Regions from separate parts of the Homo sapiens genome. Here region 1 is linked to region 2. Evidence: fine-mapped expression QTL. Tissue or cell type: prefrontal cortex. Region 2 holds a variant in brackets; the other region holds the start of a gene. All regions are shown on one strand. Distances are between the middles of the regions.

Evidence for each region. PIP is the estimated chance that this variant, and not a neighbour inherited with it, causes the effect.
Region 1: GNB5 starts here. The variant in region 2 is fine-mapped to the expression of GNB5 in prefrontal cortex (ROSMAP, PIP 0.95).

The regions. Positions count from the first base shown.
Region 1 is chr15:52,187,978-52,196,081 of GRCh38, forward strand. GNB5 (G protein subunit beta 5) reads right to left here and starts at 3,415. Exons shown (of 13, transcript NM_016194.4): 1 at 3,345-3,415. It overlaps MYO5C (myosin VC), which reads right to left. Exons shown (of 41, transcript NM_018728.4): 40 at 7,400-7,480; 41 at 4,345-6,077. The coding sequence ends at 5,925. All of the region lies in intron 2 of CERNA1 (competing endogenous lncRNA 1 for miR-4707-5p and miR-4767), which reads left to right. RefSeq lists an enhancer at 3,513-4,012.
Region 2 is chr15:52,118,567-52,126,670 of GRCh38, forward strand. It overlaps GNB5 (G protein subunit beta 5), which reads right to left. Exons shown (of 13, transcript NM_016194.4): 11 at 7,382-7,478; 12 at 5,907-6,073; 13 at 1-4,202. The coding sequence ends at 4,191. Among named protein-coding and RNA genes, the nearest start is that of BCL2L10, 9.8 kb to the left of the region's middle. The variant CT/C (reference allele first, on the strand shown) is at 4,977.

The sequences.
Region 1 (8,104 bases), 69 kb after region 2:
ATAAATAAGTGGAAACAGAAGGACACAAAAAGGGGAAAGTAAATCGCCCACATGCCCTACACCAACAACTGACCTGTTGGCATTTTATGTTTTCCTCTAGTATCTTTATAAGTATATATGTGTGTACTTTTTAACAAATTGGAATTATATGCCATATACTACTTTATATAATAGCATTTTCATCTTCACGTCATTGCATATTACTGGAAAACACCATTTTTTAACGGAGACTCCAATTTTTGAGTCCTATGGGCCTTAAGTCGTATCACATAGCTAGCATTTTAGACCTCACTGGTTAAACATGGGCAAGCTACAAACTAAATTTAAAGCATTTTTAAACTGTAAATATTATACATATGCATTGTAGAAAGTTTGGGGGAAAAAAAGATATAAGGAAGAAGATAATCACCTATAATCCCACCACTCAGAGAAACTTCTTTTTACATTTTGGTGTAGCAAGAATAGATTTGAGACCACTGAGGTCATACTGTTCATGTATACTGATTACATTTCTGTATCTTGATGTTTTTCACTTAGTATTTGTATCAGCTAAATTTTAGTACTTTGTTGTACTTATTGTCAATATCCTTTTTATGATGAGAGAATTTTTCACAGCTAGAGCCAATGTTTCGATGAGCATTTTGACAAGAAAGACAGAAATGCCCCATTTAACAAATTTTGACATGAAGTTGCTCTGCAGTAGTTCATAGAACTTCTCAAACCTTCCCCTAATAACTTTATGCCAAGCACAAACTTTCTTTGATATCTGTTTTACCTAAATATGTGACTTAAAAAATTACCACAGAAATACGTGTTTATTTTAAAAAGAACCAGTACCAAAGATGAAAAAGTAAAACTTGAATCCCCCATCACATGCCCTGCATTTTCACTGCCCTTAGTTTGTTGTTTATTCTTCCAGACTTTTCTGGCACAAACACATAGATACAGCTTTGGTAGTCATGCAAATAGGGCTACTTGCTTTCTTCATCTAACTTATTCTGTTAACACTTATAGATCAACCTTGTTTGGTAATAGGTTCAGCATTATTCTATGCTGTGGAGTGTCATAATTTATTAAACCAACTTCCGTGTTTGGATACATAGGGTATATCCAGTTTTTACTTTTAAAATACTGCTTCATTAACTCAATTAAAAATGGACAAAAGGACCTTCATACATTGCTGGTGGGAAGGTAAAGTGGGGTAGCCGTTTTCCAATGGTGCAGCTGTGGAAAACGGTTTGGCAGTTATTCAAAACTTAAATATACAGCTGTTACCATAAGACCCCGCAATCCTACTTCTAGATATATACCCAGGATACTTGAAAATGTATGTTCACTGGCTGGGCGTGGTGGCTCATGCCTGTAATCCCAGTACTTTGGAAGGCCCAGGCGGGTAGATCACCTGAGGTCAGCCTGGGCAACATGGTGAAACCCCATATCTACTATACAAAAATTAGCCAGGCGTGGTGGCAGGTGCCTGTAATCCCAGCTACTTGGGAGGCTGAGACATGAGAACTGCTTGAACTTGGGGGATGGAGGTTGCAGTGAGCCAAGATCGCGCCACTGAAATCCAGCCTGGGCAATGCAGTGAGACTCCGTCTCAGAACAAAAAAAAAGAAAATATATGTTCACATAAAAATGTACATACTAATTTTCATGGCAGCATTATTAGCCAAAAGTGAAAGCAACCCAAGTGTCCACCAACCGACAAATGAAAAACAAAATGTCTATCCCTCCAGTAGACTGCTATTCAGCAATAAAAAAGAATGACGTTCTGACACATGCTACAACATGGTCAAACCTTAAAAACGCTATCCTATGACAGAAGCCAGACACAAAAGGCCACATATTGTATGATTTATTTATATGAAGTGTACAGGATCAGCAAATCCATAGAGACATGAAGCAGATGAGTAGTTGCGAGGTGGAGGGAAGAGAGAATAAGGGGGAAGGAGGGAGCTGAGAGTGAGTGGCTGCTTAAGGGGTATGGGATTTCTTTTTCGGGGTGATGAAAATACTCTGGAGTCAGTGGCAATGGTTGCAAATCCTTGTAAATAAACTTAAAAAACACTGAAATATATGTTTTAAAATGATGGGTTTTAAAACATGAAACAAAACGTGGACATCATATCTCAATAAATTTTTTTTTTTTTTTTTTTAGACAGAGTCTTGCTCTGTCGCCCAGGTTGGAGTGCAGTGGCGCAATCTCGGCTCACTGTAAGCTCCGCCTCCCAGGTTCATGCCATTCTCCTGCCTCAGCCTCCCAAATATCTGGGAATACAGGCGCCCGCCACCTCACCCGGCTAATTTCTTGTATTTTTAGTAGAGATGGGGTTTCACCGTGTTAACCAGGATGCTCTCAATCTCCTGACCTCATGATCTGCCCGCCTCAGCCTCCCAAAGTGCTGGGATTACAGGCATGAGCCACCGCGCCCAGCCCAAAGATTATTTTTAAAATGGACAAAAGGCTTGTGTAGTCACTTCACAAATGAGGATACTTATATGGTCAATAAACATATAAAAAGGTGCTCATTATCATTAGTCATCATAGAAATACAAAGTAAAACTACGATGTGATACAACTACTTAGCCATCAGAAAACCTAAAAAGCCTGACAACACAAAGTGTGGGCAAGGATGCAGAGACTGGAACTGCCTTTCTCTGCTAGTGGGAGTATAAGTCGGTATAACCACTGTAGAAAACTGGTTGGTAGGAGCTACTAAAGTGAAACGGATATAGTCTATGACCAGGCAATTCTACTCGTGCATACATACACCACAGAAAATAATGCTTATTTCCTTAAAAAAAAAAAAAAAAAAAAAAAAAAAAAAAAAAAAAAAACATAAATGTCATAGCAGCTATTCATAGAAGGCCTAAACTTGAAAGACCCAAATGTTCACCAGTCACAGACGAAACTGTGAAATGAGCATAGAATAAAAAATAACTGATACACACAATGTGGATGTATCTCAGACTTACAACTAAAAACCTCTTTCTAACCCCATAAGCTGTACTCAGAGGCTTATGTTGCCATGTGTCACCTGGATCAAATTTTAAAACTGACTTAGTGATTTTAAGTATGCTTAATCTCTTTCCTGATGCCAATATTAATGTAAAAAATATTGAAATATTTCAATTTGAAATATTTGAAATTTACTATTTCAAAATAAATTCATGTGTATTGTAGAAAAATTAGATTCTACGGATTAACAACAACAAAACCCCTCACCCATGCTCCCACCGCACAGAAAGACCTGCTAACACTGTGCCCTGTACTCATCTGGATGCTTTTCTGAGCATTTCAAAAGCTGGAGTATTTTAACCGAATGTCAGCATGCACATACCTTCCAGAGTCAGCACTGGGAGCCACAGAGCAGATGGTGAGAGGTGAGGACCAGCGCGCAGCTTGAGGTGTGAAGCACGTCTCCCACTGGCTAATCTCCTTATCTTCTCTGGAGTGCTGCTCAGCTTGCTTCCTTCCTCCACAGCACTTCCATGCTCCCTGCTGGGCACGCACTGCCATCTGCATCCCTCACTCACCCCTGGAACCTGCCCAGCCCCTCTGTGGAGGGAGGCCTTGGCAGGTTTGACCTCTGTGTCTGCGCCCACTCACTGAGCAGCCCTCACATTCACCTGGGCCACATGTTCTTAACATTTCTCTATTTTGGTCTCCTTGCCACTGTCAGCTTTGTAGAACTGATCAAGACTGTGGGATGAGTGCCTCCCTTTCCCCATTTTTCCACACATAAACTCCTCAGCCTCCACAGGTCTCCCTGTCCCCAAACATGACCTACTTTTTCCCATGGTTGACTCCCCACCACACACACACAGTCCTCCAACGGGACTTTGCTCCTTCAGTTCTCTTCCCACCTCATCAGCAGTAGGATGAAGGCAGGGATGAGGAGGATGTGGCACCTGCCCTCTGGGGCTCACAGGCCTACAGAGGAAATGGGCAGCATTTCTGGCTTCCAGTCCAGGGTAAGTGCTATAAAACAGGCATAAATCCTGAGTTATGGAAGCCGAAAACCAACAGTGATGGCTCCTCATGGTGTGGGGAAGGTCTAGAAAGGGCATGGAGGCCGCAGCTCAGGATCAGAAACCCTGCCAATTCTCTGCCAAGTAGCCCCTCATTCTGACAGTGTGGAAGCGCCCTGGAGACACAGCCTAAGCCAGCACTTATGACATATTTACTTCTTCTCTAAACATTTTAATATACTTTAAATGAGATATTATGAATCTATAAAGATTCTAGCATCTTTCAGTATGACCGTAAAGAAAGGCATACAACTTGTACACTTAAGAGACATGTCATCTCCTCGCAATGAAAGAATCTGACCCAATTCATTTGGTAATTAATTTTATTGATTAAAGTATTACAAAGTTCTACTTTTCATTTTTTCATGTACAATGTATTGAAATGAACTAAACTCAATCACTTATAATATAAAAAGACATTATTATGTATTAGCAGGGTGATGCTTCATAATCATGTATTATTCCTACCTCTAAGACACCAGTCTGTATTATAGAATCACAGCTGTCACCTGTGACTGTCAGAAACAGAAGGTGCAATTGGGATTCTTAGGTTGGTGACAGAATAGCACTGGATCCACAGGCCAGAGACTAGGAGTGCTTATCAAATGAGGTTTTAGGCTCTGAAAGGAAGGAATGAGAAGGTGTGCCGGGACAAGGAATAGCCAGTTCCCATAAAACTTGGGAAACGTAGATTTCTCAAAAGTAGGGTCCGACACAATTTTTTAGTTACTTTTTGAGAAAATTTAAAAATAAATACATTGAAATGCTGATTAGAGAGCGAAAGTAATTTAGGTTGCTTTTTCAATCTGAGGTTGTTTTAAAAAAGTTATTGTATGAAAGGTATTAAAAAATAAAAAAATTATGGTGAATATGTTGGCAGGTAAGATTTGAAGTTCTTTCAGAGAAGATAAACGGCATGGCAATTAAGCTTTAATAATATATTAGTTTTAAATAGATATACATATAAAAATACTTCAAATGATTCATCTCGGATTGAACACTCTTAAAAATTAAAAGGGTCAGCCGGGCGCGGTGGCACACGCCTGTAATCCTAGCACTTTGGGAGGCTGAGGTGGGCGGATCACGAGGTCAAGAGATCGAGGCCATCCTGGCCAACATGGTGAAACCTGTCTCCACTAAAAATACAAAAATTAGCTGGGCGTGGTGGCAGGTGCCTGTAGTCCCAGCTACTCAGGAGGCTGAGGCAGGAGAATTGTTTGAACCCAGGAAGCGGAGGTTGCAATAAGCCGAGATCATGCCACTACACTCCAGCCTGGCGATAGAGCGAGACTCCGGAGTCTCAAAAAAAAAAAAAAAAAAAAATTTAGAAGGGTCTAAAATAAACATTTTTAAATGCAGGGCATTTTCAGTAAAAAGAGTTCATGAAAACCTTCTGTCCCCAGCAGGCATGGGGCAAGAGAACTTTTGGCAGGTCACGGTGGCCAAACGGGATTTTTTCCTGGAAGACTCAGCACTAGAATCCACTTGCAGCTTTGTAAATGTACTCAGGTTTCACATGAACCTTAGAAAACTTGGAAGCCACTGTGTCCCCAGATCTCACTCCCTCCTGGTAGAGCCCTGCCACAAGACAGAACAGATCAAGAGGCACGTGGAAGAAAATATGAGCCCTCCAGGAATTTCAGTGAAAACCAGCTGAGATTCGAGAGTGAGACATGGCTTTTCCAAATACAGCTGGTGTGTGTGAATTCTTACAAAATTACAGGAGCAGCATTGTCACTGTGAGTGAGAGATGATGTGGTCCATTTGAGAAAAGTCTGTTTTCTTCCTTAAATCACATTCCAATTTCCACTGCCAATTAATAAAACACATCCCTCATATTGAACCTTCACTTAGCTTTTGAAGAAAAAGTGCATTGACTTTTTCTCCTGCTATAACCTATTCAGAAAGCCTAGCTTGAAACTGCTGGGGATCTGAATCATTTCCAGAGCATGTGGAGAGGGGGTAAAAGGAAATGTGACTTGAAAGAGATATTTGGTATCCAACATCAGCTGTGATGAATCCTCCCGGCTATTTAGGAGAGCCTGAAATTAGAATCAGAGGAAAAATGAGTAAGGAAACTAACATGTTCTGCTTTACTGCTACCTGAAAGTCAAGGCAAAACACAGCTATCTCTAGTGGAGAGCTCCTTGCACCATCACATGAAATGACATACATGAGAACTTTTTAACAACAGCACAATTCCAAAGTCTATCCAGGGCTTCCAGATCAGCTCTCAGAACAATTAACTTGTCCTGTTTCACTTCAGAAGTTAATTTCCCATGGGATGAGTTGACCATAAATCTGTTTTCTATTCTAATCTATTCTCATGGCATAATTCTAAGGTCAAACATGAGTAGATTTCAAGTATTACATTTTTATTGAACCCATCTTTCTTCTTCATTCATGGGTTTGCAACCTTTTTGGTCTCAGGACCGCTTTATACTAAAACATGACTGAGGCCCCAAAAGCTTTTGTGTATATGGGTATATTGGCATTTGCCATATTAGTAATTAAATATACATTGTGTATATGTGTATATCGGTATTTGCCATATTAGTAATTAAAATGATTTATTAATTCATTAAAATAAGCTCTACACATGTTAAACATAAGTTTCCAAAACAAAGAAAATTTAGTGAGAAGTGGTATTTTCTATTTTTGCAAATCTCTTTCATGTCTGACTTAATATATTATCATATATAACCATATATTATATACGCCATATTTTAATATATATGCTATATTATCATATATACGATATATCATATATATCTGCTTCTGCATTCAATCTGTTGTGATATGTTATTTTGGTTGAAGTACACGAAGAAAATCCACAGATAACTATTGAGAAAATCCACAGATACCTACTTAGAAAATCCACAGGTACATATTTAGAAAAAGGAAGAGTTTTGCAGACCCTCTTGAAAGTGTCTCAAGGACTCCCAGGGATCCTTGAGCCAAACTTGGAGAACTGCTGCCCTAGAGTTCCTTAGGGGACAAACTTTAGGGATTATATAAGAAAAAATGGTTATACAAATGATTATAAAAGAAAAATGGTCTCTGTTTCCATTCAGCCTCTGCCCACTTGCACAGTATTCAACGATCAGTAAGAAATAAGATATATTGACAGAATACAGCACGGGAGACATGATTTTGGTGCTTTCATTCCCCTCCCACCTGGACTAAGGTGGATTCTGAAAATTTCACAGGAAAATTTCCTGCTTACCTTTGAGCTGGGTGCCTTTCATTTGTATATGTGGGTAAATGTACTTTAATCCTGGATTTCTATAATGTTAATTAAGTATCAACATCTTATACCATAGTTAGGAAGTAAAATTAAAAGGCACATCCTTAAGAATCTCACCTGTACTTTGCGAACAAAGGATGGAGTCACTCTCTTCTCAAAGTCATCTATAGGTGTGTATGAATTAAGGATCTTTATGATCTGCAAACGGTACATAACATGGTGTTAGACCATGCAAAATAATAACTCTGTTCATAAAATAATGGTTCTGGTTATTGGGAACCATTGGGAAGCACAGGTGGTTCTTTTAGCCTATAATTTGGTTCAGGAACTGTATGTTACCTATTTCCAAGAAAAGAAAACAAGGGGAGAAAAGTGCCTTAGGGAGCAAAGGCAAATCAGATAATCAGAAAACAGTAAGAGGAGCCCCCTTCTAGCCTCCCCACCTCCCACATGGCCACCCCTCCACATACACATTTGTGAGTTTAATGGGCAGGGAATGAATGCATCATAGACATTTGTGTATATGTGTGTGTGTGATTATTATTATTATTATTTTTGAGATAGGGTCTCCCTTTATTGCCCAGGCTGGGGTGCAGTGGCATGATCATGGCTCACTGCAGCCTCGAACCCCTGGACTCATGCGATCCTCCCGCCTCAGCCTCCCAAGTAGCTGGGACCAAAGGTGTGTGCCATCACACCCAGCTTTTTTTTTTTTTTTTTTTTTTTTTTTTTTTTGGTAGAGCGTCTTGTTATGTTGCCCAGACTAGTCTCAAACTCCTGGGCTCAGGCAATCCTCCCACCTTGGCCTCTCAAAGTGCTGGA
Region 2 (8,104 bases):
CAATAACTTTTAAGGGTGTAGGCTGGGCACGGTGGCTTACACCTGTAATCCCAGCACTTTGGGAGGCCAAGGTGGGAGGATCACCTGAGGTTGGGAGTTCGAGACCAGTGTGACCAACATGGAGAAACCTGGTCTCTACTAAAAATACAAAATTAGCCGGGCGTGGTGGTGCATGCCTTGTAATCCCAGCTACTCGGGAGGCTGAGGCAGGAGAATCGCTTGAACCCAGGAGGCGGAGGTTGAAGTGAGCCCGAGATCGCGCCACTGCACTCCAGCCTGGGCAACAAGAGCAAAACTCCACGTAAAAAAAAAAAAAAAAAAAAAGTGTACAGAGATCCTAAGACCAAAAAGTTTGAGAACCACTAGCCCAGACGAAGCTCTAACTGATGAGAATTACTAATTTGCTATATGAGTGGGGGCTGCCTATGGATGGGGAGGAGATGGGGAGAAAAGAAAGAGCTGGGGGAAGGGGAATGGGGAGGAGATGGGGAGAAAAGGAAGTGCTGGGGGAAGGGGAATGGGAAGGGAGGAGGAGGGAGGGAGAAACAGCAGAAGGGGAAGGAAGGAGACCAGGAGAGAGGTGGAACAGGGAGACAGAGGAAGAGGAGATGAGGAATGGGGGAAGATTGAGAAGGGTTAGAAAAAGGAGTCCGGATGAATGAGGAGAGGGGGAGGGGGCAGAGAAGAGGAAAGAGGAGATAGGAAGGAGAGAGGAGGCGATGGGAGGGAGGGAGGAGGTGATGAGAGGGAGGGAGGAGGGGTGACAGGAGGAAGGGAGGAGGAGATGGGAGGGAGGAGGAGATGGGAGGGAGGAGGAGATGGGAGGGAGGAGGAGATGGGAGGGAGGAGATGGGAGGGAGGAGGAGGAGATGGGAGGGAGGGAGGAGGAGATGGGAGGGAGGGAGGGGGAAATGGGAGAGAGGGAGGAGAGAGGGAGGAGGAGGGGAAGGGAAGAGAAAGAGGGAAGATAGGTGGAGGGAGAAGGGAGGGGGGCAAATAGGAAGGGGACTGAGGAGGACACAGGGAGAAGCTGGGAACTAACCCTTCCTGAAGATGTGCTAAAGGCTGAGGTAGGCACTTTACATATTTTAGTCCCATCCCATGTTACAAATGGGGAAACTGAGGCTGAGAAAAACTCAGATATTATCATATATTCTGTGACCGTGACAGAGGTGGGTGTGAATGAAGGCCAGCCCTCTTATGTCACCAAGGCATCCCTCTAACTCACAGAGGAGTCCCAGTATCGGTGGTGCCACCTTTCAGCCAGCTGGCCTGGCAACTATGAGAGCCCGGGACACAAAGGCCCTTACAACCCTGTGCTGTTTTAAGCCACTTATAACCTAGAGAAGGGTGCAAAGGAGGTAGAAGAGCGGGAAGAGGGCAGTGGCAACGGGATGCCCACCTCTGGCTCGCCTGGGAGAAGAGGGACGGCTGCCAGGGCCCCACCGGTGAGAGGCTGACCGCGCATTCTAAAGCACTGGACTTGGCTTCATGTCACAGATATTTCCCATAAATACCCATCACCCACACCTTTCTGCCTGAACTTTCTTTTTTCTGGCCCAGGAGGGGGCTGCCCAAGGCTCTACACCCCTGGGGGCCCATCTGTTTGGCCCCTTCACCACAATTGGTTTGGTAGGTTTATCCCCAAGTCCTCTGGAAAAAAGAAAAGCTGATTATAAAATGCACTCAGCATTATTTTCAATCTGCAAAATACAATCTATCCCATGGAGCTTACCCCTGAGTCTCCACATGCTGTCACATAGTCCAAATCAAGTATCTCATCAGCAAATCCCGACAGCACCCACTGCGAGAGCGCATGCTCACAGCGAAGGAGGCTTCCTGCCCATGCGGGGAGTGGAAGCATTCTCTGGAATACTTTCCCTGGGCCCTTAAAGTGGCTTTTTGGATTGGAAAGTCACAGTCTACTTTGCACATATCCTGAAGATGCTCTCCACCTCTCCAAACATGGAACCTGGAATGTGCTTCCCTGGGCCACCTTTCCTTCCTTTCTCGTGCCTTCCTGCACTTCTGGGAGCCGGAAGGCACAGTGCAGAGACAAAAAAAAAAATGGCTGTGGGAGAGAGGGTTGGGGATGCCACCACAAGGAGGCCAGCTGCACCAGGGGCCACTGTGGGACATTCTGGAGCAGAGCTCAGGAATCCCATGGTGCCCTGACCCCTTCAGCACCTGGCAGGAGCTGGCCAGACACTGGGCCCATTTCCTGAGCCCCTGCCCAGACTGGAATCTACTGGGACTAAAAAGCACTCTCTCTGGGCTCCCTGGAGGAAGGCAGAGGCCCTTCATTTTTCTCTCTCTACCCCAGACCCCAGTGTACAATAAAACCACCAGTAACTGCTCTGCAAATGATCAAATATAATTATTATGTTTATTTGAAGTGAGATGATGGAAAAGATGGCCTGGCTGATTTTGGACCGAGTGGCCCATCACGATACCTGAACAAGCAGTTGTGAGGGTGGGCCTGGCACACCCCTGGATGTTTACAGGAGCATCTGGTCCAGTCCTGTCTTATGGCTGTGCCCAGCTCCAGCTCTGGAAGAGTCTCTCTGAGGAGCAGGGCCTGGAGCTGGGCCTGCAAAGCCAGAGCTACCACTAGAAGAAGGGCTGGGCTGGAGCAGGGCCAGGAAAGGAGACCTGTCCAGGGGACAAGGTGCACGCAGCCTTCAGGTGCAGCCAGAACCTGCCGGCAGACCCCAGGCCACCGACGAGGCAGGCCTCACCAGGAATGACACCTGGTGTCTGAGGTGACCTTTTATTCCCCTAGGTGCATGCCATCTTTTTAAGTGAGAAGTTTTCTAAAGCAAAGAATAAGCATCTACATCTTACAAAAAAACAAAAAAAGGAAAAGAAGGGATCCTATAACAAAAAGCACTTCCTTCTTCTAGAAGGAATTCTGAGTCTCAAATAAAGAGAAGATCTTCTTTTAATATCGTTTTTCTATGTAAGAGGAGCAGACGTTATTATTCATGACTATCAATCAATCTGCATATGTAATTATAATTGCAATGCAATACATATGAATATAATTTTTTTTTTTTTTTGAGACGGAGTCTCGCTTTGTCACCCAGGCTGCAGTGGCTCGACCTCGGCTCACTGCAAGCTCCACCTCCCGGGTTCACGCCATTCTCCTGCCTCAGCCTCTCCGAGTAGCTGGGACTACAGGCGCCCGCCACCACGCCCGGCTAATTTTTTGTATTTTTTAGTAGAGACAGGGTTTCACCGTGGTCTCGAACTCCTGACCTCGTGATCCGCCCGCCTCGGCCTCCCAAAGTGCTGGGATTACAAGCGTGAGCCACCGCGCCCGGCCATGAATATAATTTATATGGACAAGATTCACTTTAACCTAAGTGTTTCCACTAATTCTACTAATAGGTTTTTAAATAAGTTTACTATCTTGTGTTCCCACACAGAAGACTTTTCTTTGCTCTCAGAAGCATTTGTTTACAAACACCATTGGCTTTCCCTTCAATTCAGAGAAAACGCCCTGTCCAAGTGGCACAGTGACATCATCATCATCCATGAGTCAAACCACCTGTCCTTTTTAGGCATTTCTCTGCGTCATTTACAGCAGTTCACCATAGACAAAAATGTTGTATCTGAAAAAAGACAATAGAACAGGAAGCTGAAAAAGATACTTTTACAATAAAAACACATTCTAAAAAAATGATTTTTGTCTAATTACATTTGGAATTGGAATTTGCTTCTATCACAGACCAGTCACCAGTCCTCAGTCCATAAAATCAGCACTTCCAGAGGAAGGTTCCAGGCATCACAGTGCACATCGAGAAATATCAGACTTTAAAGTGCTCTGAAAATGAATTGATTCAAAGAAATAATATGGAATATATTAACTGCTGAATTCTACTGGTGACAGAATGAGTTGAGGCTACTATAATTTAGAATAACCTTAAAAACAGATACATTTTAAAAAGTGTTCCAAAAGAAAAATACTGTACTTGAAGGTATTCTCGCAGTGCTGAAGGCTCACACTAGTGTATTTCCAGAGGTGACAGTTTTAATAGTCATATTGGAGACGCTTAGTGACCTGTGAGCCATGGGTTGCTCCCCTAAGCTACACTGCAATAAACTCTAAGCTCCTCTAGAAGTAATATCTATTTACATGTGAAGATTTCAAATTCTCAGGTATACATGAGTGCACTGTCAGAAGATGATTAGGCCCAGACCTGTGAAGACACAAACAGATAGTTTTTAGACCTTTGTAGTTAACAACTTATAAAACTTGAGCTTAAAGAGATAAAATTAGTCTATTCACACACATGCATGGGCATACATATATGTGTGTGTACACACACACACACACAAACATACACACTCCATCCAAAATAGGGTGCTCATGTGCCTTAGAAGGATAACACTGTACTCCTAGCAATGCAAAGGTGCTTCTTTGGACCTGATCTTCTCCTCCCTTAGTTAATTGTCTGTGGGGCATCTGCAGCCTCCTTACGGGCCTAGCTACTCTTCCAGATTGACAACCAAAACCATTTGAACCCATACAGCTCACCATATACATTAACATGACTACTCACTTAGGACACTCTTACCCAGGAAGATGAACTCACAGATAACTTTTTTATTTGTTTCAGGAATTTTGCAAAAATCCTTTTCTCTATCCTAACACTAGACTACTCAACTTACCCTCTTTAGAAAACACACCCATGTCTCAGGACAATATAGAGCATCAAATGACTATTTAGTTTTAAAGGGTTTGTTCGAAACCCTCCCCCACCCCTGCATCCAGCAATCCTAAAACTATTATGCCACAAAGTTGTCCAATCCTAATTAAGTGCCCCCCAACAAAGACCTGCCTTAAACCAGACCAAAAAAACCTCATGCATGCCTTTGTCATCCTCTTCTGAGATGCCACTACACCTCTACCAATTCTTGATGTTCCACACTGAGGTAAGCAATAAATTTAGCTTTGCTCTATGAATGGGCTA[CT/C]TTTTTTTTTTTTTTTTGAGACAGAGTCTTGCTCTGTTGCCCAGCCTGGAGTGCAGTGGGATGATCTTGGCTCACTGCAACCTCTGCCTCCTGGGTTCAAGCGATTCTCCAGCCTCAGCCTCCCGAGTAGCCGGGACTACAGGTGCATGCCACCACGCCTGGCTGATTTTTGTATTTTTAGTAGAGACAGGGTTTCACCATGTTGCCCAGGCTGGTCTGGAACTCCTGACCTCAAGTGATCCGCCTGACTTGGCCTCCCAAAGTGCTACAATTACAGGCATAAGCCACCATGCCCAGCTTAAACAGGCTATTTTGGTAGTATTTTGGGTGAGCCAACACTCAACAAGGTTATGGAGCTCTCTTTGAGAATTTAATGAAAGCCACGAGGACAAAAGGCATACACCCCAAATTTGGCATATAATTTCAGGGGCTTCATTTCCAAGATTAAGCTATAGAAAAACCAAAAAAAAAAAAAAAAAAAAAAGGAAGAAAAAAGTAATAATTTCAGGGGCTTCACAGCCTCCTGGATTTGTGACCCTTGTCATCACAAGGTCAATAATCGTAATAAGAACCCTATACTATAGGAGGAGAGACTGGTTATCTGTGGTTTGCCAAAGGCTAGAATCACAAGAATCAGACTTTTAGGGTCAAAAGGAACTTTCTGGATGATCAAGCCTAACTATTCCCTCACCTACAGGCTGATACGCAGTTGTCGAATCTGTGCGAGAATACCTGCACTGATGCAGCACTCGCTACCTCTCCAGGCAACCCATTCCCTCTGTGGCTGTGGGCAGAGTGGAAATGAGAGCTCGGCGAGGCTGACCAGGCCCACCTGAGCTTACTCTGATAGCCTTCCCTCTGCTTCAGAAGGCCTGTCACCAGTCCTCTCTCCTCTCACACACAGGAAAACAGAAAACCATCCCTCTTACTCTGAGGGTATGATCCCATGATCCAGAGCAGAAAGCAGTCCCATCGGGGGAAACTCGTAGAGTGCTAACGCGGTTTTCATGTCCAAACAGGATGGAGACCCGGGACCCTTTGAGAACATCCCAGACGTTGATAGTGTAATCATTGTATCCAGCAAACAGCAGGCGACCTTGAAGCAGGGTGAGATGATAGCTGTTAAGCCAGTTCCTTGCTTCCTGTTTCTCATTACATGACTGTTACTCACTCATTCAGTAAGCAGTGATTCAGGCGCACTGAGTCCTAGGCACTGTGCTTTGCCTCAAGGATTCAAAGGGGAGAAAGCACAGTCCCTGTCCCTGTTGGAGGATGTGGGGCTGAAAGGAACAGATCACTGTAGCATCCCATGGTAACAGCCATAATGCAAGTGCTTTACACACGTAAAGTGCTATGGGACCAGAGAGGAAGGGGGATTAAGGAGGGCACTGCAGACACAAGTAAATTATTTTTAGTCATTTGCTAGTTAACAACTTGTAAAACTTGTTTAAAGAGAGAAAGTTAAAGTGACATTTGAGTTGGCTCTTGAGGGTTGAATCGGAGTCTGTCATGCAGAGAAGGCAGGGAAAAGATGTTCCAGGCAGTAGCAGGAACTTCACGTGCAGTTAGTCTAGGGATGTGTCTGGGGAAATGGAGTGGTCCAGGTAGCCAGCCTGTTACCTCTGCTTTAACTTTCTATTTTTCTTTCTTTTTTTGACATGATCCTTCTGGAGCTATGCTTTTTCACCAGCAGCTTCCCACAAAGGAGCCATGAGCTTCAAGGCACTGAGAAGGGACTCATTTTTTTTTTCCCTTTGAGTCAGAGTCTCGCTCTGTTGCCCAGGGTGGAGTGCAGTGGCACGATCTCAGCTCACTGCAAGCTCCATTTTCCAGGTTCAAGCGATTCTCCTGCCTCAGCCTCCTGAGTAGCTGGGATTACAGGCATGCGCCACCATGCCCAACCAATTTTTGTATTTTTATTAGAGACAAGGTTTCACCATGTTGGCCAGGCTGGTTTTGAACTCCTGACCTCAAGTGATCGCCTGTCTCGGCCTCCCAAAGTGCTGGGATTACAGGCGTGAGCCACAGTATCCCACCAAGAAGGGACTCTTGCTTCACCTCCACCTTACAGAAAAGTTCCCTTTGGGGCATGAAGAGAAGCAAAGGCTGGGGAGAAAATGCCTGAGAGCATTGTGGAAGTGAATTTCTGACACTTCATTGCCTTGAAGGACAGCATTAGGTGGGTACACAGCCTTCATTTCCCCCTGGAGTGAAGTTGCCTGGGGCAGGACAAAGTGGGAGGTCAGAAGCTCAGAGGAGGAAAACTGGTGCAAATATGGATGATTTCGCATACTGGTCCACAGGAAGCTCAGTTGATGAAAAGGAACTGAGCGATGATGGAGCGCTAGTTTCATTCTGGTCCTGTCTTACAGTCCTGGGAAAAGTTTCTGAAATAAAATCTTACCACTGAGGGAGAAGTCCACGCTGGATGCTCCAAATATGATGCTTTCTTTGGAATAGATGGCAACCTCCCTATCTGCCCGCAGGTCATAGAGGCGACACTGGGGAGCAAATAAATAAAGAAGCACTTACTTCTGGCTTCAGTTTGGTGACGTGATGACCACAGAGCTACAGGTAGGTGCTAGTGACTTGCGTAGTTTAAAAGATGAAGGAAAAACTTCTTAGTTTTCCCTACTGTTATTTCATCCTTTAGTCCCGACTCCTGTTAATTTCTATGAGTCAGTAAAGAGTCCTGATTCCTATTAATCTCTATGAGTCAGTAAAGAAACGGCAAATACAGCAAATTTCTTCAGGTATAAAAACAAAATGAGACCCCACTTTTTTTTCTGATAAAGGACACATGTTCACTGTAGAAAATTTGGAAATATTCAAAAATGTAAACAGAAGGAAATGAAGGTCACCCTAAATCCTAGAGGTATTTACTAATTCTCAGCTGTTTCCTTCAGTCTTATTTGTATTTTATGTGTGTATCTGAATGGGTTGGATGTTTCATTATTGCTTTTATTAACATTAGGTTATACGTCCTTTCTCATATCATTAAAAGAGAACTTCAAAAAACATTATGTACATAGTTATTGAATATATCAGAATCTATTTAGCCAAACCCTGTTGTTTTGGTTGTGTTTAATTTTTCTTTTTTATAAATAATATTATGATGACTATTCTT